Homo sapiens: one gene and its partners. The protein of the gene in region 4 interacts with the protein of the main gene of each other region in a biochemical or structural test. Each region holds a gene or a part of one and is shown on either strand. Other genes may lie near its edges. The genes, in order: BMF, DLGAP1, RPH3A and MYO5A.

What was found.
Region 1: the proteins of MYO5A (region 4) and BMF form a complex in vitro, tested with the Homo sapiens proteins (one study listed by BioGRID).
Region 2: the proteins of MYO5A (region 4) and DLGAP1 form a complex in vitro, tested with the Homo sapiens proteins (one study listed by BioGRID).
Region 3: the proteins of MYO5A (region 4) and RPH3A form a complex in vitro, tested with the Homo sapiens proteins (one study listed by BioGRID).

The regions. Positions count from the first base shown.
Region 1 is NC_000015.10:40,091,853-40,098,879, reverse strand, and holds part of BMF (bcl-2-modifying factor), read left to right. Parts: intron 1-5,004; exon of another isoform or gene 5,005-5,277; intron 5,278-6,991; coding exon 6,992-7,027. UniProt on the Homo sapiens protein: May play a role in apoptosis. Isoform 1 seems to be the main initiator.
Region 2 is NC_000018.10:3,528,284-3,535,310, reverse strand, and holds part of DLGAP1 (disks large-associated protein 1), read left to right. Parts: intron 1-695; coding exon 696-1,117; intron 1,118-7,027. UniProt on the Homo sapiens protein: Part of the postsynaptic scaffold in neuronal cells.
Region 3 is NC_000012.12:112,864,730-112,871,756, forward strand, and holds part of RPH3A (rabphilin-3A), read left to right. Parts: intron 1-684; coding exon 685-814; intron 815-2,027; coding exon 2,028-2,111; intron 2,112-3,700; coding exon 3,701-3,866; intron 3,867-5,029; coding exon 5,030-5,068; intron 5,069-5,163; coding exon 5,164-5,310; intron 5,311-7,027. UniProt on the Homo sapiens protein: Plays an essential role in docking and fusion steps of regulated exocytosis.
Region 4 is NC_000015.10:52,308,860-52,315,886, reverse strand, and holds part of MYO5A (unconventional myosin-Va), read left to right. Parts: intron 1-1,683; coding exon 1,684-1,764; intron 1,765-2,038; coding exon 2,039-2,191; 3' UTR 2,192-7,027. UniProt on the Homo sapiens protein: Processive actin-based motor that can move in large steps approximating the 36-nm pseudo-repeat of the actin filament. Can hydrolyze ATP in the presence of actin, which is essential for its function as a motor protein. Involved in melanosome transport.

The DNA of each region.
Region 1 (7,027 bases), about 12 Mb from region 4:
CACACACTCTGCACCTGACTGCTCTCTCTTCCAGGAGAAGGGCCTTGTAGTTCCGGAGAGTTCATTCCCTCCCCACCAAGGCCTGCCATGGGATGGAAATTGGCTTTTTTTTTTGGAAAGTGGGTGATGGGAGGAGGGGACTAAGGGAGACACAAAGAAAGAAGGTTAAAGAAAAATGACTGGTTTGCCTTTTGATCCATGTCTGGCAGCCAAGAGGTCATGTTCCATGACCAGAGCACACAATCAGTCCGTGTGTGAAGGGGAGGGTTCCATCCTTCCTCCTTGCCTGGTTTGCCTTGACCTGGTCCTGGACAGGACATGAACAGTCAGCTGAAAAGACCCCAAGTCGAGTGTCAGAACCTGGGGTTATTTTGCATAGCATAATACACACAACAGGCTTGTCCCCCGAACCCCCTCCCTCTCCCTTCTTTAACCAGGGCACACACCATTGTGCCCTTCTGAGCTCTGAAGAAGTTGCCCAGTAGTTTGATGGAGCTGTTCTCAGCTTGAAGGAAACTGAGTAAGGGTCTCAGTAGTTCCTCCCTCCAGGCTGTGGAGGTGCAAAACAAGGGTCTGGGGACATGGATGGTGCAGCACAGCTCTGTCCCCGAACCGTACCCCTCAACCCCCAGTGGCTGGAGCCAGTGTCTTCCAGTTGCGTTAGAGGAAGCCTTGCCATCTTCCACTGAGAGCTGGCTGGCTTCGGACTGCTCTTTTTTCCTTAGAGAAGCAATGGGCGTGGCCATGGTGGCTTCAATGTCCTGTTAACACTGCTGGCTGGGCTGAGGAAGCTCTTGGCAAGGAGTCTTTTTTTTCCTTTTCCGTTTTGCCACGTTGCTCGTTCCTCGGGCCTCTGGGTCAGAAGCAGTCTGAGGCAGTGGGCCCACTGGGTCCAAGGGGTTGCCCTCTGGGTTTCAGAATCCTTGGCTTACCCTGGCAGCCTAGAATCCTGAGCCCCATGGCCTGTGGCTGCTGTGGGCAGTCTCAAAGCAGAAAGTCAGGGATCTCCCAGGGATTTCGTGAGTCTGCCGGGAAGATGGTGCTCCCCAGGCCGGCCCTGTTGCAGAGCATATTGAGAGACGTGCTCTGCAAAGCCAGTGAGTCCCAGGTTTTCCTTGTGCTCCCCAGGGAAGGAGGAGCCTGCTCCTTGCAGCCCCCAGGCCCAGTGCTTCATGTATATTTTTCTTACGTAATCACCACAGCAACCTTGGACTTTTAGACTCCATTGCCACTGTGTTATAGGAAACTGAGGCTCAGAGAAGTGAGGTAACATGTCCAAGTCACACCGTAATTTGCTGAGCTAGGCGTCATACAGATTTGATGGATTCTGGAACCATGGTCCAATCGCCCCATACCTGCTGCCCAGCAATCACATTCCGGAAAACAAGGGTACAAGGAAGCACACATTTGCTGCCCCAACCCGCTCTGCCTCATGTGATACTCAGCTAGGTGCTCTTGCTCTTCTCCCCATTATATTGTAAAACAATTGAGAACCAAGTTTATAATATTTTAATCATCTTTGTATCCACATAACTCTTAGCTCAGTTGGGTGCTTAGTAGCTCAGTTGGGTGCTTGGTAGCTCAGTTAGGTGCTTGGTAGCTCAGTTGGGTGCTTGGTAGCTCAGGTGTTTGGTAGCTCAGTTAGGTGCTTGGTAGCTCAGTTGGGTGCTTGGTAGCTCAGTTGGGTGCTTGGTAGCTCAGTTGGGTGCTTGATAGCTCAGTTGGGTGCTTCATTAAAATGTCCTTATTTCAACAGAAAACATCTTCCTAGCTTCCTTCAAGCAGGAATTTTCCTGCTCTCAATGTTCCTGTTCTTAATTGCAAGGCTCTTTCTTTCAGCCTTGGCCTGAGTAGGTTTAGAGAATGACAGGGAAAAGGGAAGAGGGAGGAAAACTTCACATCGTGGACTGTGCACCTTCCCCTAGAGTATAGACAATTCTGCATTTTGAAGAGATTGAGTGTGGTTTCAGATCACAGTCTGAAGTTATAATTTCAGACCAGTTTTAGCTTTATTTCTGTTTGATCTTCAGTTAGCTCTGCCTCTGAAAGGGTTATTTTTTTCTGGTCCACAGCGTCCTTACTAAATAGTTAATGATCTGGAAACAATGTCTTTAAGCATACTAGGGGAGCAGATCAGTGGTGATTTGCTTTGAAAAAGGTAATGCTATTTTCATAATGTCAATAAACACACTGTAAAATTTTAGTGAAGGAACATAGCTTTGGAGTCAGAAGTCAGGGCCTCAAATTACACCCCTCCCAACTAACTTGGGATGACTTTTCTGAGCCATTGTTTCCGTCGCTCTAAAATGGGTTGATTAATACCTGCTCTTCCTATCGTGAGGATCACATGAGAAGAAAGGAAAGTGCTCTGTTCTGTATCTGAGATATTATAAGTTGCTCTCTGTTTGGTAAATTTGCATTTTGTGAGTTAGGTTCTTTTAGAGCTGCACACGGCTTCGCTTTGCTTCTTCCTCTGATACTTTGGGGTGAATTAGCTCTAGCTGGAGCATCTGGAACACTGGTGACACACAGAGCCCCCAGAGGGTATGAATTGGATCTGAAAAGGGGAGAGGCAGAGGGAGATTCTTATCCAGGGAGCGTAGGGAACACGCTTTGTGCTTAGGGCAGAGGCTGTGTGGGATGAAACAGAGTTTGATTTATGTAATCCAACCTTGTCAGACACCACAGCCAGCTCTTTAGAGAAAAAAAAAAAAAAAAAAAAAAAAGGAGGCCTTTTACTAGTTGGGCCTCTCCCCAGGTGTGAGGCTGATACTATCACATAAAGTACATCTTTAGACCTGGCCAGACATCAGTTGTTCCTGGCCTCAGACAAGTGGGTTATCTTTCAGGGCTGACTCCTCTGTAGTCGGTCCAGCATGCCCTTGTTGAGTGCCTACTGTATGCCTTCCATGTTCCCCATTACACAGGATGAGCAGCTGTGCATTCAGGCATAGGGTGTTGCACACAGTAGGGATTGAAACATTTGTCAGCTGACTGCCTTCATCCCCTGTCCGTGGCAAGAAAATGAGGCTGGGCCAAAGAAGCCGCATGGGGCTCTGATGCCTGCTTGTGCTCTCTTCATTGAAGAGAACACCGTGATCTACCATGTTAGGGCACCTTCCCTGGGGGCATTCACCTCTATTCATTCCCTCCATTCCTTGGCCCTGCCTTCTAAACCATGTGAGTCCGAGGGCTCTAGGGTGAGCTTCCCCTCCTCTGTATCCCAGCCCCGACCCTTGGGTCACCCTGACTGTGTATTCTGGGAACTCCCATTCTGTGAGGGGTTCCCTAGCTGAGTCTAGGAGGGCAGGCCTGGTTCTGGGGATCTGCCCTTGTTGATCTCAGATTGTGCGCTGGGTGCTGTGCCGGGTGCCTGAGGGTCAGAGGCCAAGTACACTCATTCCTGGTTCCCCTCTCTTCCCCTTCTCCTCCACACCCTCTTGTGGAAGATCCCACGTTCTCTGGTGTTTTGGTATCTTTGTGTTCTTCATCCTGTTCAGTGAAGGCCAACTTCCTTCCTCCTCACTGTTTCTCCCACTGGCCTCCCTTCAAGTCTTTTTTCTTTCCTTTCTAGTCAGGCCCTTTTGTTAAACTTTTAGGAAAAATTTTATTTATTGTTGTATTTTGTAATCAGGGCATTCTTTGATTATCTTGGTTTCCTCATGGAAAAGGGTCTTGTGAGGGCTGCCCTGAGGCGGGAGAAGGCCAAAGGGAGCCTGTGTGGTATCTGCTTGTAGCCAGAGAGGGCTCATGGGCCCATGGGTGGTTCCCAGGCCCTACACTCAGCTGACAGAATTCAGTTGTTGGAGCTCTGAGTTGTAATCCTGAAGGTAGTCGTGGATGACAAACTCCTTAGGGTTGGAGAGCACCTTTGTGGTTTCCAAAAGGCTGTGGCCTGGCTGCCACAGAACCACCTGGGCAGGATTGACCTCTGGCTTGGCCAGTGGGGTAAGACATTACTTTGGTGGAAAGAGATCGAAAGGGACTGAAGAAAACACCAACACGTGAAGTGTTTTCTAGCCTGGAGGATCATGAGTGACTTTATTTCCTCCTCTGTAATGTCTTGTATTTTCCAATATTTCTACAATTAACATGTATTGCTTTTATGATTAAAATATACAATAAATGATTTCTGATCTCTAAAATGTCACCAAGGGAGCTTGTTCAGTATACAGATTCCTGGGACCCTTCCTTGAAATTCTGACCCAGTGGGTCTGGGAGAGGCCTGGAGACTCTATACTTACAAGAGCACCTCAGCTGGCTTAGTGACACAGTTGGGTTTAGAAACCATTGATCTAGTACAATACCTGCATTTTCCTTATAAGCCAAGAGAGAACTCATGAGCAGGTTGATGGGAGATCCAACCCGAAAGCCAGGTCCTCTGATTCCTGGTCCCTGGGGATCCATGCACCATAGAGCCTTCCTTACCAATTCATGAGCCTTAAGGACTGTCACACGCAGAGGCATGGAAACTAGTTCCTTCCCAAGGGCCGGCCCATGTATCCTGCCTCCTGCACCTAGGCCTGCCTGGGTCCCCTGCAAGACCTCAGCCTTCCTGTCTGAAAGCACTCTCTGGCCCACAGCTGCTTCTGAGTCCCCCAACGCTCCCAGATGATGGGAGTCTGTGCCTCATCTTCAGAGATCTCAAGTTGCCCAGGGAGTAGGTGGCCTCCATTAGTGGAATTTGGGAGAAAACTGAGGCATACAGAGATGAGAATTGCCTCAGCCCCAAATCATAGAATTCTCATCTGCTTTCCTTGGCCATTGAGCTGTTTTGAGATGATTTAGTAAAGGGGAGGCTAGAGGGTCTGCTTTGGTATAAAGAAAGGTAGTGGCACTCTGAGCACAGAGATAATGGGAAGGGACATAGCTCTAGGGCCAGATGGTCTAGGTTCAGTCCAGTCCCTGCCACTTAAACTAGCTATGTGGTCGCTAAGTAATGGGCATGATAATGTGCCTCAAAATCACCTGGGGAATCTTCTGATGCTGGGTCTGCATTTCCAGGCAGCTCTCTGATGATGCTGAGGCTGCTAGTCCATGGACCACCCTTTGAGAAGCAAGGATGCAGAACACACAGAACAGAGCCTGGCACCTCCCCACCCCCGACTGCCACCCTAACCCCACGTTACTATTATGAGGTGATGATTGTTCTTGCCACCGGTCTTCTCAGACAAGCACCTCAGGAGAACTGGAATTCCAGCAGACTGGCCTCTCCAGGGATGAGTCTGCTCCTGGATTCTCCTCTTGTTCGGCCACATGACCTCTGCACCTGTCTCGGTCAGCAGCTGGGGAGGGGAGGAGAGGGGGTCTTTGGCCCAGCTGCTGCAGGCCGGAGGCTTCGGGTTTGCAGCTGAGTCCATTTTCACGCTGTTTTACTCTAACCAGATTTTGTTAAGCCGGGTGTGTTTCCTCTTTTTACTCATCTTTGTTTACAAAACACGAGGAAGCCATCCATCTCCCCACCCTCTGTCTGCCAGGCCTCTTCTGTGGCACGCCCGATTTCCCTTCCCCTCCGGGCAGGAGCTGCGCCTCCAGCTTGCCGGGTTGTTTTCCAGGCTCTTCCACGGGGGAAGGAGGAATGCTGTTGCCATGATGGACGGGGGCATTCCGTGTTCACCTGGGTTGTCAGGCCCTGAGGCCAGCTGCCTGGATGCCTCTCTTTTTGTGGCCTAGGGCAGCGTGAAGGGGAAGCCAGCAACCTGCATGGTGGCCCTGGGAAAGGTCAGGGAGGCCAGGGCTGGACAGAACCTGGAAGCTCTGGGAGTCCAGGCAACCTGGGCCCCCTTTCCAGCTGTGCCGCTGGCTTCCTCTCTCCTCTTCCCATCTGACCAGGAGTAGTTGCCTGGTGGGGGCTGGTGCTGTGGTTAAAGACAGTTTAAGAGAAGGCTTGGACACCTCATGTAAACTTGCTTGCTGACGGGGCCACTGAAGTAATCCAAGTCCAGCCCGTGCTGGCTCCTTTCTGCACACTAGGTTTTTATTCCCCTGTCCAGTGAGAACCCTGTGGAGAGGCCCCCGCCCAGTCCTCCTGCCCTGGCAGACAAAGAGAGAACAAAGACCGCCTCTTCCAGCACCCCCCAGTTTCCACCCCCCCAGGCCTCTCCTGGGAAATGGTACCTGTGTGGGCAGGGCACCAGCCCCAATCTGGTGAGCCACTGACCCCTGAACTTTGCCCCTAGCTTCCCAGCCTGACAGTAGGACCTGGGATAACCTCCAGAGCATAGTATATATTCTTTGTTTTTGTTTTGTTTTCAAGTATGTTCTTGCTTAATGTTTAATTGGCTCCAGTCAGTAGGAGAGCGCTCCAAGAGGGATTATTTATGGCTTACTGTCAAGAGCATCTATAAAAAGGGCAGCACCGAGCTGGAGATGCTGGGGAGGGAGAGCGGGCGGGCGCACAAGGGTGTGTGTGTGTGTGTGTGTGTGAGTCTGTGTGTGTGCGTGTTTGCACTGGATGAAATCAGATTTTTGCTGCCTCAGCAGTGTGGTTTAAATTGAAGATTAACCCTTTGACCTTCACAGTGTCAAATCACTTGCAGATGGAGGCCCCCCCTTTCCCCTTGTTCTCTGTGTTACTTTGGAGTCGGGGGAGAGAGGGGGGCACTTCTTCTCTTTCTGAAGCCAGTTTGTTGTTCATGCAGCTGAGGTTTGAGGGGCTCGGGAGCCAATCTGATTAAAAGCAGCACTTGGCTAAACTCTGGAAAATCCTGCAAGCAGGGGAAAAAGCTTAATCCTCTTGTGCATAGTGCATATAGAGCCTAGTCTTTTCTTTTTAATGTTAAAACTGCAATTGTTTTTGGAGAACTCAACTCTCTCCTCCACATGGCAGTGTCTCTTTCACCTCCCCCTCCTCCCCGCTGTGAGCTGTACTGATAGGATTAAAGTGCCAGCCGTGAGACTTGGAGATCTGAACTTTTACTGGAAATGAGAGGGAGTCGTCTAAGATTGCGTTTGGGAGTTATGTTGGTCTTTTTTTTTTTTCTCCCTTCAGCACCAGCAGAACCAAAATCGTGTGTGGTGGCAGATC
Region 2 (7,027 bases), on a different chromosome or scaffold from region 4:
GGACACTTCAGGTAATGGATGACAGAGCTGCACATTCTACTGGCTTTAATAGTTCAGCACTTTTCCACCTATAAAATTTCTCTTGATATGCTTTAATATTCCATATTGAGCAAAAATGAGATTCGTGCTCTTCACATTGAAGCTATGACAATCAATATGCTTGCCTCAAGGGTCTACCCCTGCCACCACCACCCCCAACACACACACACACACACACACACACACACACACACACACAGAGAAGATTGAGAAGATGAGACTTCTAATGGTCACACCTGCCAAGTAAAGTAGAAAGTAGTTTTGCTTCAAGAAATATCCTTGCCAGGCACGGTGGCTCACACCTGTAATCCCAGCACTTTGGGAGGCAGAGGCAGGCAGATCACTTGAGGCCAGTAGTTCGAGACCCACCTGTTCAACACAGTGAAACCCCTTCTCTACTAAAAATACAAAAATTAACCAGATGTGGTGGCATACACCTGTAATCTCAGCTACTCGGGAGGCTGAGGTGGGAGAATCGCTTGAACCTGGGAGGTGGAGGTTGCTGTGAGCCGAGATCACGCCACTTGCACTCCAGCCTGGGAGACAGAGTGAGACTCTGTCAAAAAAAAAAAAAAAAGAAAGAAAGGAAGGAAGGAAGGAAGGAAGGAAAGAAAGAAATATCCTCTAACTAAATTTCTTTTTTCTATTCTCCCAAGCTTCCGCAGGTTCACTCGATCCAACAGTGTGACGACAGCAGTACAGGCCGACCTGGACTTCCATGATAATCTGGAAAATTCTCTGGAATCTATAGAGGACAATTCGTGTCCTGGCCCCATGGCCAGACAGTTCTCCCGCGATGCCAGCACCTCCACAGTCAGCATTCAGGGCTCAGGAAACCATTACCATGCCTGTGCCGCCGATGATGACTTTGACACGGATTTTGACCCCTCTATTCTGCCTCCTCCGGACCCCTGGATTGACTCTATCACTGAAGACCCTCTGGAGGCCGTGCAAAGGTCAGTGTGCCACCGGGATGGCCACTGGTTCCTGAAGCTTCTCCAGGCAGAGCGAGACCGCATGGAGGGGTGGTGTCAACAGATGGAGCGGGAAGAACGGGAAAACAACCTGCCCGAAGACAGTAAGTAATGCCACCACGTGCCACACCCGTCCCCTGGGGCTGGGGTTGCTTTGTGTGTGCAGACCTTGTTGTTTTCTTCTCTGCCAGCTTCACTTGTATAACCTTGACGTTCCACACCCCAAACCAGAACATGCAGGAGAGCTAGGTGATTCCAGCTGAGTCCAGAAGTCCCTGCACAGCACAAAACCAAGAAAACTCCTGGGTAGATATAACACTGTCCTTAGCTCTAGGCCCATGACGTTCTTTTTCTTTCTGAAAATACCAAGCTCTGTGTGGAGGTGCTTTCATGTCTCTAACTTGGTCCCTCTTCTCCAAGATGATCCTGGAATGTTGCTGATCCTCAGGGGATTGAAAATAATTCTAATCAAAACATCTCATGTATCCTATGAATATATACATCTACTATATACCCACAAAAATTCTTTTTAAATAAAAAAAGAAAATAATTCTAACTAGCCCAGTGCAGTGGTGCCCACCTGTAGTCCCAGCTCTTCGAGAGACTGAGGTGGAAGGATCACTTGAGTCCAGGGGTTAGAGGCTGCAGTGAGCTATGATCACACCACTGCACTCCAGCCTGGGTGACAGAGCAAGAACCCATCTCTAAAAATAAATATATAAATAATACTAACTTTTTTCAAGGTCCATAGATACAGGTACATTGGGGATTTATATTCTTTATGATTTTGTTATTCTCATTAACATACAGCATTAAAACAAGGCTTATAACGTATAGGCCGCTAGAAACCCCCACCTATTTGTATTCTTAAGCCTGTTTGACAGGCACTTTCTCTTAGGATTTACAGGGGCAAACCCTTTAGCTGCCAAAGAAACACATTTTATAATCTTATTACAGTTGAATGGGCTAAAGTGAAATACACGATGAATACATAAAATAAATAATGGACACTCTTTTTCGCACACTATTCTTTTCTTTCTTTTTTCAGACAGGGCCTCACTCCTCACCCAAGTTGGAGTGGCGCAATCATGGCTCACCCCAGCCTTGACCTCCCAAGTAGTTGGGACTACAGGCATGCACCCCATGTGCAGCTGATTTTTGTATTTTTGGTAGAGACGGGGTTTCGCCATGTTGCCCAGGCTGGTCTCAAACTACTGAACTCAGGCAATCCGCCCACCTCGGCCTCCCAAAGCGCTGGGATTACAGGCATGAGCCACCGTGCCTAGCCTGCACACTATTATTTTCAAACTTGACCTTTTAACATTTGAAAAAGAAAAATTAACAATTGAAAAAGAAAAATTGTCAAATTATATTAACAGTTGAAAAAGAAAAATAATCAAATTACCTCAATTCTGAGGCATGTTTTACATGTTTTCAACAATTCTGAAATTAGAATGTAGCTTATATATAATCAGTATGTATTTTAATGTTGTATGTTTATTTTCCTCTGAAACATTATTATTAAATTAATGGTGGATCCTCCAACTGATGATATTTTTGAAACAAGGAAATTTGGTGGTAGGCATTAATGCCTGCTTCATGTCTGTGTGCAAAGCATCTAAAAGAGTATTGCTATGAAGTAACTTTTTAGACTTGTTTTTTAAATTACTTTTTCAATTTTTATTATGAGCTTTTTCTTTTTTTTTCTTTTTTTTTTTTGAGATGGAGTTTTGGTCTTGTTGCCCAGGCTGGAGTGCAATGGTGCCATCTTGGCTCACCGCAACGTCTGCCTCCAGGGTTCAAGTGATTCTCCTGCCTCAGCCTCCAGGTAGCTGGGATTACAGGCATGTGCCACCACACCCAGCTACTTTGGTATTTTTAGTAGAGACGGGGTTTCACCATGTTGGTCAGGCTGGTCTTGAACTCCTGAGCTCAGGTGATCCACCCGCCTCGGCCTCCCAAAGTGCTGGGATTACAGGCATAAGCCACTGTGCCCGGCCTATTATGAACATTTTTAAACATGCACAAAAGTAGAGTTTAACATGATGAGTCCCCATGTACTCGTCACCTGCTTCAACAACTGGCCAGTCTTGTCTCCACCATTTGTAGTTATTGTTGTCAGAGTATTTTTAAGAAAATCCAGCACCAGGTGTGGTGGCTCATACCTGTAATCCCAGCACTTTGGGAGGCCAAGGCAGGAGGATCGCTTGAGGTCAGGAGTTCAAGACCAGCATAGCCAATATGGTGAAACACCATTTCTATTAAAAATACAAAAATTAGCCAGGTGCAATGGCACACGCCTGTAATCCCAGCTACTTAGGAGGCTGAGGCAGGAGAATTGCTTAAACCCAGAGGCAGAGGTTGCGGCAAGCTGAGACTGTGCCACTGCACTCTAGCCTAGGCAACAGAGTGAAACTCTGTCTCCAAAAAAAGAAAAAAAGAAAATCCAAGGCATCGTGTCACTTCCCTATGTAGCTCACACTTATAGAAAACATTTTTTATATGTATAATCATAGGCCTTGTGCGGTGGCTCATGCCTATAATCCTAGCACTTTGGGAGGCTGAGGCGGGTAGATCACTTGAGGTCAGGAGTTCTAGACCAGCCTGGCCAACATGGTAAAACCCCATCTCTCGTAAAAATACAAAAATTAGTCGGGTGTGGAGATTGGCCCCTGTGATCCCAGCTACTCGGGAGGCTGAGGCAGAGAATGGCTTGAACCCGTGAGATTGAGTTTGCGGTGAACAGAGATCGCAGCTACTGCACTCCAGCCTGGGTGACAGAGTGAGACTCCGACTCAAAAAAAGGTAAAATATTATCATGCATTATCGTACGTAACAAAAACAATAATTTTTTTTTTAAAAGACAGAGTCTTGCTCTTGTCACCCAGGCTGGAGTGCAATGGCCTGATTTTGGCTCACTGCAACCTCTGTCTCCTGGGTTCAAGTGATTCTCCTGCCTCAGCCTCCTGAGTAGCTGGGATTACAGGCACCTGCCACCATGCCAAGCTAATTTTTGTATTTTTAGTAGAGACGGGGTTTCACCATGTTGGCCAGTCTGGTCTTGAACTCCTGACCTCAGGTGATCCACCCGTCTCGGCCTCCCAAAGTGCTGAGATTACAGGGGTGAGCCACAGCGCCCGGCCAATAATTTCTTAATTAGATTTAACATCTACTATAAATCATGTTAAGTGCATTTACTAAATGCACCAAACTAGTGGTGTCAAAGAGTAGTGAGTTTTTCCCTAGGGGAATCATTTTTTTAATGAAATGGAGTCTGGAAAATAACAGTTGTCATCAGACTGGGGATATCTTCACTGTGTCCACTCTCTCACTCACAGCTCCAGTCTGCTCCTCCTGCCTGACCCCTGTCAAATGACTGACTAGCTTATCGCTTGCCTTTATGGGCAAGTTAGGAAATTCATTAACGGGTTTCTGTAAAACCCATAAATGGGTTTCCTTTGCTTCTTCATATTATGAGTGCAAACAACTTGGCAGTGGAAAAGTAAATCTCCTTGACATTTGCCCCTGTTAGTGCCACTGCAGACTCACCTGAGTGTTGACCCCCAAGCACAATTAGGTCTTTGCCCTGGTGACAGGTAAACAAGGTATGTCTCAGCAGCAGTGGGAGCAGGGGTAGTTTTCAGTAAGAAAGTCTTAGTTGGATCATCTTATTCACTTTTCTCCTTGTGGACATACTCACAGTTTATCAGATTTTCCTAGGAAAAATGCCAGCAACTAAGGAACAATGACATCCCGTGCCACTGCTCAATGGCACAAACTTTCAGATTTCAATTCTCAAATTTGGTTCTCCTTCTAGCTTCCTGATTGGTGTTCTCTCTCTCTCTTTCTTTCTTTTTCTTCCCTCCTTTCTTTGGTTTTCTTTTCTTTCTTTTGGCAGAGTCTTGCCCTGTGACCCAGGCTGGAGTGCAGTGATGGGATCATAGCTCACTGTAGCCTGGACGTCCTGGGCCCAAGTGATCCTCCCACCTCAGCCTCATGAGGAGCTGTCACTACAGGTGTGCACCACCATGCCTGGCTAATTTTTAAAAAATTTTATAGAGATAGATTCTCACTGTGTTGCCCAGGCTGATCTCAAACTCCTGGCCTCAAGCAATCCCCCCACTTCTGCCTCCCAAAATGCCAGAATTACAGGCATGAGCCACCCACCCAGCTCCTGGCTGGCTTTCAACAGGACTCTTGGAAACTACTTATCTGTTGTTTTCTTTTAATGGGCCTTTCAGTCTGAGACTTGATCTACCTCTCTCAACCCAACTCTATAATGATGTGTGAGGATACTCATTGTATAAAGATTTAGGAAAAACTAAAGGAGCTAGGAAAACAAGTCAGTTGTATTGTAATACAATAACATATATTTGAAAGGTTGAAAATCTTGTCAGAAAACCAGCTTCTCAGCCTATGTTCAGGATGAAAGAGAAACGTATTTGTATTTTGAAATGTACACTGCTGGCAAAGTCCCAAGATAATGAACATGAGGGAACTGCCCAACCATCTGTTGTTCCAGGCCTAATTTGTTGTTCAAGCTGAACTGGGTATCGCCCTGGTGCTCCTGTAATGCCCTGTGTATTTGTCCTTCAGGTACTTCCCACATTATTTTATAATAACCGATGTATCTTTCTCTTCCACTAAAAAGTAAGCTTTCTGAAAACAGAAATTATTCTTGTCTTACTCATCTTCATATCACCAGACCCTCTGACGCATAACAGGGGATCAGTAAATATGTATTTGAGTCCTTGAAATATTCTGGAAATTCTGTTTTATAAAAGTATTTTACTTAGCAAAACCTTTCTTCCTAATTAGCTAAAAAAAAACTTCAATAAGTAATACCTCAGTCCTTTCAGGCTGCTATAACAAAATACCCTAGACTGGGTAATTTATAAACAATAGAAATTTATTGCTCACAGTTCTGGAGGCTGGGAAGTTCAAGATTAAGATACTGGCAGGTTTGGTGTCTGGCAAGGGCTGCTCTCTGTTTCAAAGATGGCGCCTTCTTGCTGCAGCCTCACGATGGAGGCAGCAGACAAGCTTCCTGGGCCTCCTTGATAAGCGTAGTAACCCTATTCATGAGGACTCTGCCCCTGTGACCAACTCACCTCCTATAGGCCCCCTGTCTTACTATTTATACATTGGTAATTAGGTTTCAACATATGAGTTTTAGAGGAGCACAGACATTCAGACCATAGCAAGTAACTAACAGTTCTTGTTGCCAAAAGCTGGAAAGGTGTTCCCGTGACAGATGATGAGCTCTTCTGATCAGGACAAGGATGTGGAAGAGAGAGATGGGCACCTGCCACAGAAGTGATGGAAAGCACTTCCGTGTGGGACAGGTGGCTAGTCCAGATGAACCTTGTGTGTCCTGTCTCATTCTTAAGACACAGTTCCATTCCACAAACACTTGAAGGCTTTCTCTATTTTTTCATACTTTGAGAGACACGAAATAGGAGCTTCAAACTACTGGGATTCCAAAATTCTAGTCAGTGCCGTGGCAAACCCTGCGCCCAGGACAGAGTCACCAATTTCAAATGCGGCCAATCCAGATCAGGGAGAATTGGACCATAAAGCAGTAGCAACCCTCTCCAGGAAGAAGGGAAAATATCAGTGCATGAAAGAATATTCATCTTGCCCTCACAATACCCCTGACGATGGCCTAGAGACTTTGACAGGTGCTGTTTTATTTGCCCTCACAACAGTTCTCTGGCAGTATCTTGTCCAAGGTCACAGAAAACAGAAGTGTCTGATAGAACAGATACACATGAATAACATTTGACAAGATAATGATACTTTGCGTTGCCTGGCACTGTCCTCCTTAAAGCCCGCCATGCAGATCTGTCCCTGACTCCTTGGCAAGCACCACTCTGTTCTGATAACTGGGCCTAGAGTTGCAGAGGGCCTTTGTTTCACCAATTCTCTGACTTAACCTTTTCTTTTTTTGTAAGAGGGGCGGTAAGGAAGAGAGGCCAATCCCACTTGGCAGGCATAGCCAAATTCTAAGCAAC
Region 3 (7,027 bases), on a different chromosome or scaffold from region 4:
CCAGGACATTCATTTTCAAAGGGGAGTCTTCCTGCGTTCTGTTCACCCTCTACCCTTTCCTTAAACTGTCTGTACTTGACAATTTCAGGGCAGAATTTCTAATTCAGTTGGGCTGGGGTGGAGCCAAAGAATTCGGTTGGGTCATTGAATGTCAGGAGAGGAGGGGGTCAAGGAAGACCCCCCTGCCACGGGGTTTCTGGTTTGAGCAAGTATGTAGATGGTGGTGACATTTCCCAAGACTGGGAAGCAGGTTTGCTAGAGCTGGAGATGGAGAGTAGCCAAGATGAAAAGTTGAGTTTGAAAGGGTAAGTTTGAGATGCCTATGAAGACATCCAAGTAAAGGCATGATGGAGACAGATAAATAGACCTAAATAAATTTAACGCTCAGAAGGCAGTTTCTGGGAGGAGGTGACAGAAGATAGAAAGGACTAGATAAGGTTCTTAATCCAAAGTCAGTAGAATAGATGGGACTTTGAGGGGTGTGGGAGGGAGGTCTTTGGTATTCTGAAAATGCGTCAGAATTTTATGTGCATGTGCCTTTTCTTGGGGAAGAGTTCACAACTGTCATCAGACGCACAACAGCGTATGACTCAAAGAAGGTGAAGACTATCAACCTGACACTGTGGGGTATGCTGGTGGTCCCCAGTCCTACAAGGTCCTTATTTACCTTGTCTCTGCTTCCAGACGCCTGGTGGACCGCCTAGAAAACATGAGGAAGAACGTGGCTGGAGATGGGGTGAACCGCTGCATACTGTGTGGAGAACAGCTGGGGATGCTGGGCTCTGCCTGTGTAGTATGTGAGGACTGTAAGAAGGTATCATCATCCTCTTCTCCCTTCTTCCCTGTGCAGCACCTGCAGAGGGGAAAGTCCTAGGCTCCAGCTGTAGGGGTCACTGGGTCTTGGGGGTGGAGCTTGGATCCTGAAGATCACTTGCCAGGATATGGTTTTTTTCTGGGATGCTTCCATGCCCTACTGTCTTCCAACGTAACCCTGATCCTGGTTCCTCCCTGGAAGCCACTCTGAGCCTTCTGTCTCTTAGAGCTGAGCTCCATCCAGGGTGAACTAGGGAGCCTGTGGCAGAACATGAGCAATGATTGAGCCTGCAGATATCCTGGTTGTACCTTAGCAAGTTATGTGTCAGTTTAAAGAGCATGCTAAGCACATGTTTATACTTGTGTGTATGTGGAATGCTTTCAGTTTTCTCGTATCCTGGGTTCTGATACAAGAAACTTAGAAAGCCAAGTTAGAATTATTTGGCTTCCAAAGCATTTGTTCTCAAAGGCGAGTAATCCTGAACTCTGTTCACCCTCTAACCTTTCCTTAAACTGTCTGCACTTGACAGTTTGGGAGCAAAGATACAACTGTCCTGGGGTCTGCCGGACTCCAAGAGTTCAGTTGAACAACCCAGCTGGAGACATCTACAATGTCATCATCTCCAGCTTGATGTCACATTTGACATGTAGAATGAAATCTTGCGAAAAGTTTATTCTGAAAAACTTGCCAGTCAACTCGATAGCGAGAATTTTGTGACCCATTAAGTTTTCCTAATTGTCTTAACTTCCAGGAAATTCAATAAAAAATACAGTATTTCATCACACAGCCATGGCATTTTCTCAGATAACTTTCTTCTCCTTGGGGAGTTAAACTTCTAGTCATAGTCTAGGTTGTCTCAGGTCCGTTTTGGAAATAAAGAGGAAATAAATTAAGATAAAAAATGGATATATGGTCATTCCTCTTTAGAAAAAAGTATGTCAGTGATCTCCCCAGTGTGGATGATGAAAATTCAGATCCCACAGGGACTCTTAAAGAATTCCTTCATCCAGTGCTTGGGAATGACTCAAGTTCTTATTGGAAACAAGACTCAAATTGGAGTTTTATTCTAACTGGCCTTGCTCATAGAAGGAAGTGGGAGAAATGGAAGCAAGTTCTTCCTCTTTACATCCACCAAGAGAAAGTGGGGGGCTACGTTGCCATGCCTCCCATGAGCATGGCTCATCTGAGTGTGTTGGCTGTGTTTCATCCACAGAACGTCTGCACCAAGTGCGGAGTGGAGACCAACAACCGCCTGCATTCTGTGTGGCTCTGCAAAATCTGCATTGAGCAGAGGGAGGTGAGTGCCCTGGTCCCACCTGGTGCCTAGATCACCCTCCTTTCTTGGCCAGCTTAAGAGGTGCCTTAAGAGGTTTGTATGAAAGGACCCAGCTCAGCAGTGAACATTGACAGAACAACCTCAGAGTATTTGGATGAATTATTTCTCCTCCTCTGCTTCTGTGACTTTTTTTCTTCCTTCCCATCCTCTCTTCTTCCCTCTCTGTTCATCGCCCTCTGGCCTCTGTTCTTTCTTTGACCCCATTTCTCACCTTATGGGTCTTCCTCTCCCAACATCTTTCCTTTCTCTCTCTCTATTCCATTTCTTATTTCCATTTTTTTATTTCCTCACACTCTCCTCTTGTTTGAGCCCTTTTCTTCCTCTAATCCTTACTGCTTTTTTCTCCCCTTTCCTCATTTTGTTATTTCTCACATCTTCACACCCTTTTCTCGGCGATTTCTCTTTACTTTGTCCTCTTTCTTTCTCCCAGGCATCCTTCTCTTCCCCAGTCCTGCTTCTTACTCATCTTACCCCAATTAAGTCCTTTTTCCTTCTCCCAATTTTTTCATCCCCCATCCACTGCTGCAGAGTCCTGCCTTTGAAACCGTGTTTCAATAACCATGTTCTCCTCAGTTTCTGTCAGGGGCCTGGCAGGAAAGCATTGGCACACTTCAGTAGGATAATCAAGGGCTTGATGAAGGTGTTATTGACAAAGGTCCGGGCAGAACTAAGAGGAATCAGCAAGGGTTGGCGAGTCACCCTAGCACCAGCAAAAACAGGTTTGCTGTTTCCCCTTCTAAGGCTGAAGAGATAGAGGAGGGAATGGTTACCAGAAAGGAAGATAGGTGTAGCCTAACAGGAATGCAGTCACTGTCCAACTAGCAGTGGGTTGGGGGGAGCCAAGGAAATAAATACCGTAGTCCCACCCTCCTCTTTGCTACAAACTCTTTATTTGCCCAGAGAACTCTTCAGCAATCCAAGCTTTCAAGAGGCTTTGTTGTAATCCCTGGTGCTCTCCTTGACCAACTAAACCTGAAGACAGAGGTCAAGGTTTATTTGGTGGAGTCCAGTTAGTGCAGCCCATACTGGTCAGCCTCCTGGGGCACAGAGCAGGGTGGAGAATGAATCTGACGGGGCAATGGAAGATGTTTCACACACCGTCCTAGGTGTGCTGCTCTGTTCTGACCCACAGGGCCAGGAGAAAGGCCAGAGGTCTTGGGGAAGTTGTAGGTAGATCACCCTCTTCACAACAACCAGTGTAGTGGAGAGCATGCCACATTTAAGAGATGGAAGACTTGGAGTTGAGCCCTTGTTTTTCCATTCTCTAGCTGTGTACTATTGGACCAGTCCTTAAGATTTTGGATATTCCCCTTTCTCCATCCAAACTCCACTTTCTTCATGGGTAAACTGAAGCCCTTTCTACTGAGTTTTCAGGGTGGATGGGCTGAATAAATATGAATTGTGCAGGGCTCTGTAGTAATAATAAAAGTGTGCTGGCTATTGTGTCAGTGTGCTTTGGATGAGGAGGAAAGATAAAAATGGGCACTCATGAAGGTAAGAGCAACAGCGCTTGGCTGCCACATCTTCAATCCCTGTCTCTCCTCCCCAAGGTGTGGAAGCGTTCTGGAGCGTGGTTCTTCAAAGGCTTCCCCAAACAGGTCCTCCCACAGCCTATGCCTATAAAGAAGACCAAGCCCCAGCAGCCTGTCAGTGAGCCTGCTGCCCCTGAACAGCCTGCTCCTGAGCCCAAGCACCCTGCCCGGGCTCCAGCTCGAGGTAGGACAAAACAGGTGCTTCTTTCAGGACCAAGGACAGATCTTAGCCAACTGGTCTACCTGAGGGATGGCCTGACATCATGTCTGTGTTTCCACCCAGTTGTTGCATGGTCAGCTTCTGCACTTGGGTCTAGGACTCCTATATCTCCTTCAGAGTTCACCATAAATCGTTACCAAGAGGGTAGCACAGGGAACTCTCCAGCAATGCCAAGCCGCCCAGAGGCTTCATTGTCATCCCTGGTGGCATATCTAGTGTACAAGAGGTGGAAATTAAAATTAGGAACTGAGAGAGACTTTCACCACCAAGATCACACTGGAGCCTGGGAGAATACTCGGCTTGCTGAGAAGGCCTTCCTGGACCCTGTTATTTCTCCTACTATCCATAAGCAAGTCTGATTTGGACTAATTAAAAGTGAAAGATGAATAGAAGGAAATCAGTAAAAGAAAATTACTGCTACTAAATTGCTACTATTGACATTATCACTATTATCCAAGTATTATGATTAATTATTAAAATGATTAAGAGGGAGAAGCAAAACAGTAAAAATTTTAAAAAGCAACCATAGTAAAAATACATTTTAGTTGGACTAGACCACTAGGACTGACCAGATAAAGCCCTTGCAATAATTTCAATTGATGCTAAGTGATAAAATCTGGACTAAATGACAATTCCAGATTGAGTGCAGGCGGTACTTCTGAAAGGAAGGGTACAGCGTTTTTCATAAGATAACTTATCAAGGCACTTAGCACAATGCCTGCCACCTAAGAGGCATTCAACAAATGTTTTCTTCCTGACAAGGCAAGAGCAATTTCTACTCCTTGCAGAGAATCACCAAATTGCCAACATATATTGCATCCCTGAGGAGTCCCCAGTTTTCACCACTAAAATACTCCTTCTTCCTAGTTCTTCTAGGCTGAGAAGGCTGTATAGCATAATTGTTCTTTATAAAGCCTGTGTATGCTCATATGTGTTTGTGCATGCAAAAAAAAATGTGAAATTGTAAACAGGAGCTAGATCAAAGAGGAGGTTGGGAGAAAGACTTTTAATTTTTAAAACATATTCTTAGGCAATAGTCAATGAACCCCTTTGTAGGCTTCTTAAGTACCGGTTTTCCAGACACCAGAAAACCAGTACTCCTCATAATTTGTGTTTTCTTTCTCCAGGTGACAGTGAAGATAGGAGGGGCCCGGGTCAGAAGACAGGTGGGTTCTGCTGACTCTGTTTTGTCATTTGAGACACGAATTCACCTAATTCCCTCGATGCCCTTTCTCTACTCAATTCATGCTCTTCTTTCCAGGCCCTGACCCAGCCTCTGCTCCCGGGCGAGGAAACTATGGGCCTCCCGTGCGCAGGGCCTCCGAGGCACGAATGAGCTCATCTAGCCGAGATTCAGAGAGCTGGGACCACAGTGGGGGTGCTGGAGACTCCAGCCGGAGCCCAGCAGGTGAGCAAGATGGGCAAATCCAGAGACAGTTCTCTGGATAGGGAGACTCAAAAAGAATGAGGGGAACTGTGTTTTTATTCATTTACTTAGGCAGCATTTATTGAGTCCTACTGTGTGCCGTGTTCTATTCCAGATACTGGTTTTAGTCTATGGTAGAGGAAAGACAGGATTCAGAAACAATTCTGGCTCTAGACATCCATAATTTTGGTTAGATCCTTTTCTTGCTGTAATACCATATGTCAGAAAGCATGATTTTTTTTCTCCCCGCCTCAAAAAAAAAAAAAAAAAAACCCTGGGGGAAAAATGCCCCTAGGCTTCGAACAAAGTAAGGATGCTTCACTCTCAAAGATCTCTCCAAGTCTCCCCTTGGCAATGGCCTCTGCTGTCTGGGCATATGGCATAGGTCAGCATGGCCAGGATGTCACTGACATGTGCTCGTATTGGGTACCTCACATTTCTGGCCTCACTCTTGGTGGGTTTATTTGGTAAGAGTGCCCATTGGTAGGGGTCATGGAGCACAGGACTTTGAAGGAAATGTCTACCATATTGGAACATCTTTGTTCCATGGCCCCTTGTCTGAGACCTCAAAGCGGCTTCATTTCTTTTGCAGGAAGGGGCTGTGTCTGGGTCTAAGTCAGATTGGCTGAATATTTATGTCCCACATACATCTGGCCTTCTCTTCCTGAATTGTGTGTTTGTAGCTTAGCACTTCACTTCCTCTTATTGGCAACAGAGCTGGGCACGTACCTTGTGCTTCATAATCTGCCCAGACCTCCCCCCGACAATGAACCTATGGTTCAGATGAACAGAGAAAGAGGAACTTCCAGATCCTCAACATCAGGAAGTATTTATAGAGTGTTTACTATGTGCCAAATGCCGTCTCAAGTTCTTTTACATACATTATCTCATTTAATGTTTGCCACAACTCCAAAATCCACGTATGAGACTTCTGTTATTCGCATTTTACAGAATGGAGAAACTGAGCCTCAGAGAGGCGATGCTACTTGCCTTAGGTCACACAACTGATAATTGGTTAGAATGAGAATTAATTCCCTGTGTGTCCAATCTCAAAGCCTGTACTTTTTCTTTTCTCTTCCAGAGGTAAAGTTTCTTTTGACAATGCCTTTTAAAATTATTTTTTAATTGTTGTAAAATATATATAACATAAAATCTACCATTTTAACCATTTTCATGTGTACAATTCAGTGGTGTAAAGTACATTCACACGGTTACACAACCATGCCACTATCCATCTGCAGAACTTTTTTGTCATTACAAACTGAAACTTTGTATCCATTAAATAATTCCACACTCCTCTCTGCCCAGCCCCTGGTAACCACTCTTTTTGATTCTGTATCTGTGGTTTTGACTACTCTAGGTACTGCGTATCAGTAGAATAATACAGAATTTGTCCTTTCATGACTGGCTTATTCCACCTAGCATAATGTCTTCAAGGTTCACCCGTGTTGTAGCATGTGTCAGAATTTCTTTCCTTTTTAACCCATTATGCTGGAGGTTGCAATATTTTTGTGTGAAAAACCAGACCTTGACGGTGACTTTGAGCAGTAGGATATAAATAACTCCTACAAGCTTAGCATTCCAATAATGGAACACTGGGCATAAATTAAGAATACACAATATTCTATTGTGTATTTATATAGTGTATATATATATACACACACATAATATAGTGTACATATATATACAATAGAATATA
Region 4 (7,027 bases):
AAACTCAATCAGTTTGAGACCAGCCTGACCAACATGGTGAAACCCCATCTCTACTAAAAATACAAAAATTAGCCGGGCATGGTGGCAGGCACCTGTAATCCCAGCTACTCTGGAGGCTGAGGCAGGAGAATTGCTGGAACCTGGGAGACGGAGGTTGCAGTGAGCCAAGATTGCACCACTGCACTCCAGCCTGGGCAACAGAAAAAATCAGTAGGCCAGGCGTGCTGGCTCACACCTGTAATCCCAGCACTTTGGGAGGCTGAGGCAGACAGATCACCTGAGGTCAGGAGTTCAAGACCAGCCAGGCCAACATGGTGAAACCCCATCTCTACAAAAATACAAAAATTAGCCAGGCATTGTGGCGGGTGCCTGTAATCCCAGCTACTTGGGAGGCTGAGGCAGGAGAATGACTTGAACCTGGGAGGCAGAAGTGGCAGTGAGCCAAGATTGTGCCACTGCACAGAGACTTCATCTCAAAAAAAAAAAAAGTCAATCAGTAGACAATCAGAATCAAGACTTGCAGCTTCTTAATGTTGAATTCATGTTTGCATAACTTCTTACTAAGAATAAAGCAGAACTATCTGACAGAACAATGGTCCTGAGATTTCCTCCCAGTTTCTGCAAGTGTGGAAAGTAAGAATACCCTGGAGGAAGCCCAACTTTATAGAAGTTGGCTGCCATTCAACTTCTAAAGAATATACTTTAATACTTAAATATACTTTAAGCATATTTCACAGAGTGAGGCAGACCTGCAGTTTATTTATTTAGCAAATATTAGTTAACAAAGTGGTCCCACTTTTTAAAATTCAAATACTTGCCTCCGAGAGACTGATCCCTAATTCAGTTTGTCACCCACAGACCTGATAACAACATGCCCACTTTCTAGTTCTCTGGTGCTTAATTTATTTTCCTATAGATCAGCACTGTCCTGCATTCAACTTTTATTTTCATTTTGTGTTAATAGCCACATGTGGCTAGTGACTACTACTGTTGTATTGGACAGCACAGGTTTAGACAATACCTTGAAAATGGAAATATCTACCTTATATAGACGATGATTTATTTTCATTAGAAAAGAGACATGACCATTTTACAAAAAAAAATTATTGAACTTTTTAAAAAAGAACTTCATACTCTCTAATTGATTAATTTCTTTAGGGGCTTTTGTTATTCATGTTATTTATGATCTTTTATAAAAATATGATTTAAAAAACATTCAAAAGAGATAATTGTATTAATACGGCTAACATTTTTATATGGAGAAAAGTTGCAGAATAGTATTAATAGAATGAATCCCATTTGTATAAAAATAAAATGAACTAGAATATTTATAGCAGCTAGAGGGGGTGTTCAGGACATGGTTAACAATTGCCACTTTGGGAGACTGGAAGGATGGAAGTGCGGACATTTATTTTTCATGTTTTATTCTCTTGTGCTATTTGAATATCTTCGAAATTTACACAGCTTCTTACAATATTACACAAACATTACATTGATACATTCTCTTGTAAAAATTCAGATAAAGGTAAATGTGCAGACCAGCTCCTCCTTCCTTCTGGTCCCAGCCCACCCCTGAGTAGAACTGAAATCTGTACGCACAGATCCTTTTAATTTTCCAGATTATAGGTACCCAGTGTGTATTTGATAATATGCCAAAAACTTTGATCATTTCATTTCTCACAGATTGTGAAAGTGTTGAATTTGTATACTCCAGTTAATGAGTTTGAAGAAAGAGTCTCTGTGTCGTTCATTCGTACTATACAGGTAAGAGCTCCCATCTTCTTCTTTGATTCACCAACACAGTCTTTTGAATGGACATTTTGTAATTTATTGAAGGATAATGTGTTATCTTTTATTATCTTATTTTACAATGCACTAACTTTTTTGATAATAGTTAATTGGGAAAATGAAGTGAGTTTAAAACAAAAGTAAACATTCTTCATTAGTTGAGAATTTGAGGGTAGAAATTTTAGTAGAAAAAAGTCTTTTAGATTCAAAGAACTGATGCTCTGTTTATTTTTTTTCCTAATCTTCTCAGATGCGTTTACGAGACAGGAAAGACTCTCCCCAGCTGCTCATGGATGCTAAACACATCTTTCCTGTCACCTTTCCTTTCAACCCATCTTCCCTCGCACTAGAAACCATCCAGATTCCAGCCAGCCTCGGCCTGGGCTTCATTTCACGGGTCTGAAAGTGATGTCCAGGCAAAAATTGACAATACATTTCTTGCCCGAAATAAGAACCCATTATTTCCAGTGAGTTACTGAAAATACATTTTTAAAGAGAAAGTACTGATTATCTCCCAAATGAGAAGTCATTAACTGGAAATCTCCCTAGAATACTTTCATCACTTTGGAAACAAAGATAGGCTCTTTCGTGCTGTGTTATCTTTATAGCAACACTCATCCTTAACCAACTAGGTACCGTGAGTTTACATACAGGAGAATGATGGAAGGAAGGGAGGAAGGAAAGGAGGAGAAAAATGTGTCTTCAGCTGGCAGCATTTATTTTAAATCCTTAGCACTGAGTTTGAATGGTATAAAAAGTATAACTTCCATAGATGAGCTGTTGTTAGGAAGGCACCAAAGAACCTCCTCTGCACTAAACAGGAGAATGGAAAGAAAAGTCTCCATTGAGTACATATCATGTCAGTTTAGTAATCAATTATGTTGATATTGTTAAACTGGTTCAAAGAAATAAACTGGCAATATGTAAAGTAATTCCTCATTTGTGTCACTATGATATAGAGATATTAAAGGAATGTTGGTTTGCTAAATAGTATAGATGTCCATTTGTACTATAGTTTACTGAGCATTTTAAATTGCTGCTACATACTGTCTTCTTAAAATGTAAGTGATATTAGGCACTACAATAAGTTTCTCTTGTCAATTCTGTTTACAATTCAATCAGATCACAGTTTTAACTGGATTATATGCAAATACCTACAGATTCACCTGCACAAGTAGCAGACACTGGAAAGTCATGTAGTAATATGACAAAATGCTTGACATTTAGGGGTAGGATTAGACAAAGTGGCTATTGTTGATGTCATTATTTATTCAGGATGTATTACATTGATGTGCTCATTAATTTTCCCTGGGTGGATATTGCGTCAGGGTACAGTGTTCTGTGAAGTGACTTATTTTTAACTACCAGATCTGATTCCTTCAGTGCATATTTTCAACCTTGACAGGTTTTCTCTCTTCTTAATTTATTAAGAATTAATCTCGGCTGGGCGCGGTGGCTCACGCCTGTAATCCCAGCACTTTGGGAAGCCAAGGTGGGCGGATCACTTCAGGTTAGGAGTTGGAGACCAGCCTGGCCAACATGGCGAAACCCTGTCTCTACTAAAAATACAAAAATTAGCCGGGCGTGGTGGCACTTGCCTGTAATCCCAGCTACTCGGGAGGCTGAGGCACGAGAATCGATTAAACCTGGGAGGCGGAGATTGCAATGAGATCGAACCACTGCACTCCAGCCTGGGTGACAGAGAGAGACACTGCCTTGGAAAAAAAAAGAATCTCACTCACTATCTAGAGAGGATTGTCAGAATATTCACGATTCAGGTCTTGAAACTTTGATTATGCAAAAGAAGGTATATAATAAATATTTCATTATGATTCAGTTTTTAAGGCTTTGCAGCTTCTATAAGTGTTCTCAGATGCCACTAGATAATTTTAAAAGCATCATATTAGAAATACTTTAAGAAGACTTATATAAGAAATAGAAGATTGTTGAATTTTACAGAGGATTTGGTTCATTAAGACCCAGATTCTGTAAGTTTTCATTCTGAAATTCTAGTTAAACATATTCACCATTTTTCTTAGGAATCTTATACAATAAATCCTTCAGGTTGCACAAAAGCAAATTATTAGTTTTCATTAGAAACTCTGGTTCTGAATTACAATCATAGGTTATATAAATTTAACTGTTAGATGGTCTATAAATCTTATTAAAATATGTGCAATATTTATGGAAGTCAAACAGCTTCATATCAGTGATAAAGATTGTTATTAAAAGATAAATACTGTCTGTTAATTTACATGGGCCTCAAGTTCCTCGTTTATAAAATAAGAGAGTTGGACACTGATTCTTAACATCTCCTCCACATTTAAAATTCTCTCTTCTCAGCCCTTAGATTCTAGAGAGAAAAAGCTGCAGTTACTCAGTAAGTCCATTCTCTGATGGAAAGACCAGTGTGTAGTGCCTGTCAATTCCTTAGGATTAATCAAATGTAAAATCACAAGTTTGTGTAGCTGTAACCTTTCTTAAATGTACATGATTTATGTACATGCTTTTAGAAGGTCCTACTATATTTGTATTATAATTAGTTTAAGTAATTTTTATTACATCATGTATTGCTTTATTCAGTTTGAATACATTTATTTATTTATTTGCAGTATCAACCAGAAACACTACCAATTGCATCAAATTCTCCCAGTTTTTCCTGGTTGTCAATGCGGTTTTCAATGCACAATTAAGTCATAGCCATTTGGTTCGTACCAAATGTGTCAGAATCTAACAGCATCCGATAGGCTGTAAGTTGGGGAGTTGCTAAGAAAATGCAACGTGGTACAGGCTGTCCGCCTCAGCCCTGGAAATCTCCCAGACCTCCCCCAGCTTCATCCTGTGTAGCACGACTCAACGTGCACCCTGAATCTTCTCAGGTCTTCCAGGTCATGCTGTAGCTGTCACTGCCATGCAGCCCTTTTTTTTACTCCGGACAGCTCATGTACTGAAGCGTCATGAAAGAAAGGCTGTGGTCTGAGCCCTTCTCTCCCATCTCCTGTCTTTGTCCTGTCAAGTGCTGGAGCCAGAGCTCCTACAGCTGCCCTTGGTGGTTTCTCCTGTTCAGCGATGGTGGCACAAAGGTTCTGCTATTCCAGGGCTCCAGCTTCCTCCCAGGTCTACCCAGAGCTCCAGATGGGGGTCTGAATTAACCTCTCTTGGTGGCCTGGAGATTTTTAGTCATTGACAAGAATACCTTGTAACCAGGGAACCCCAAGGCCCAGTAAATGATTCTGTATACCATTTTCTTGAAGGTACAAGAAGATTCTGCCGACTATGGGGATCTTTGGGCCAGTTTGAGGATTGCTTTCCCTCTGAGGTTCTTTCTCTCTGTCAGCCACACTTTCTCACCCAACTTCAGACACACCCTGCCAGCCTTTCCCCTACTCATTCACTCTTCCCCTTCCCTCAACTTAATCGTCTATCCCGTTGCCTGCTGTTTGACTGTGCACTGAAGGCAGGTGGATGGAGTCAGTCCTCAGTTGCCCCTGCTGGCCTTCCTGGTGCTTACCATCAGCCCAATCTTTGCACAGTCCTTGTTGTTCTTACTTCTCTGCATGCATTCCTTCAGAAGATCAGTCATCAACTTTTTCTTAATTCCTCTGTGACACACAATGGGAATTCAAAGGAAGAGATCTTAAAAGTCACAACAGTTCTTTATCTTAATAATCCCCTCCCCATTCACCTTACTACATGCAGACTCACCTCACACCCTTACAACTTGAAGCTGAAAATTTAAAAGTAATTTCCCTTTTTGCAGCTTTTCCTCAGGTTAAGGCTTTGATCTGCCTGAGAGTAACTCTAAAAGGAGGGAAGATAAATATGGGATAAAATCCACAAAGTGTAGCTTCTAATTCCTTTGGAAGTTTAAAAAATTTCCACATATCTGATGCTTCTTTTGTCAGGTGCAGAAGCACAAAAACATATTCCGAAGCCAACTGATAGGGAATTTGGGGATTATTGTCAGTTTGGAGAATTTGCTGTGTTATTTCTTCATTTCCATGGATAGCTCATAGTTGGCTCTTTCTGGGTGAGTAATTATGTGTAATATAGATCAAATCTTTTACTAAGGTTACAGCTACATGTTAGGGGAGGCTATGAAAATACTATATTATTATAATTTCAGTGCAGTGATTGTTGTGAGAAATAACTTTCATGGTAACCCTAGGAAAATGGGCACCTGCCACCATCCTGAGAAGTCCTCACACAATGCCCTTTCTCTCTTACACACACACACACACACATACACACACACACACCCCCGTCACTAATTCATAGAGTTCCTTAGCAGGCATAGTCAAGGATCCTCTGGGTAATGTCAGCTGCTTAGTGATAAAACAGAGCCAAAACTAGTGCATCCTGTTGAAAGTAATGCAGAAACAGTACCTGGGTCCAGATATGCTTTCCTGCGGCGCTTTCCTCTGTTACCTCGTTTCATCCTCACAGCAGCATGGACGGTAGGTGGGGTCGCTTCTACAATCATTTCTGATGATAGCTTGGGAATAGAGATAGGGGCAGTGACTTGCCTGATGTCGCACAGCCCTCTGGCTGTCCTGCTTTCCCATATGGAGCAGTGGTGGTGTGGGCACCTGTGATGCAGGAGACTTTAAAAATGTCGTGAGGTCACGTGCTGCCCCTCCTGGTACGTGTGGAATGCCCCTGGCCAGCAAGGGGTGCTTTTTTATCAGAGTTGGCAGCTGGCATGTGGGAACCGAGCAAGTGCTGCGTACCAAGTTACTTGTTTTAAGGAGACCAAGTGCTCAGCGCCAGGTGGTTTTCTTTTTTGTCATAGTTACTTGCTATAACTCAGCTTGACTTCTGTCATGAATCAGTGCTCTCTGGGAGGATGCAATACTCTGTTTGGGCATTAATTGGTAGCAGGTTGTCTCAACCAAAAAGACAGGAAACAGCAAAAGCCTCTCTGAAATTAAGAGGAAAGTTACTCTCCCCACACCCATCAGAGTCTTTATTGGAGCCACCAGGTGAGCTGTGCAGCCTGGACAGGCCTGCAGCTATAGGCCACCTTCCCAGTTTAGGTCCTCAGCACAGGGGAGCCCAAGTCACTGGGTGCCTTCCGAGGGCTGTCACTGGGCAGGCCATATACAAGTCAGTGTGTGCGTGGGCACTGCAGTGTGTGCATGCCGTAGGTGTTGATGGGTGCTAGGAGGGGTGTCGTGTGCATGCGCGTTGAAGAGGATCTGTATTGCCGTGACCTCTGTTCATGGATGAGTGCATTGTA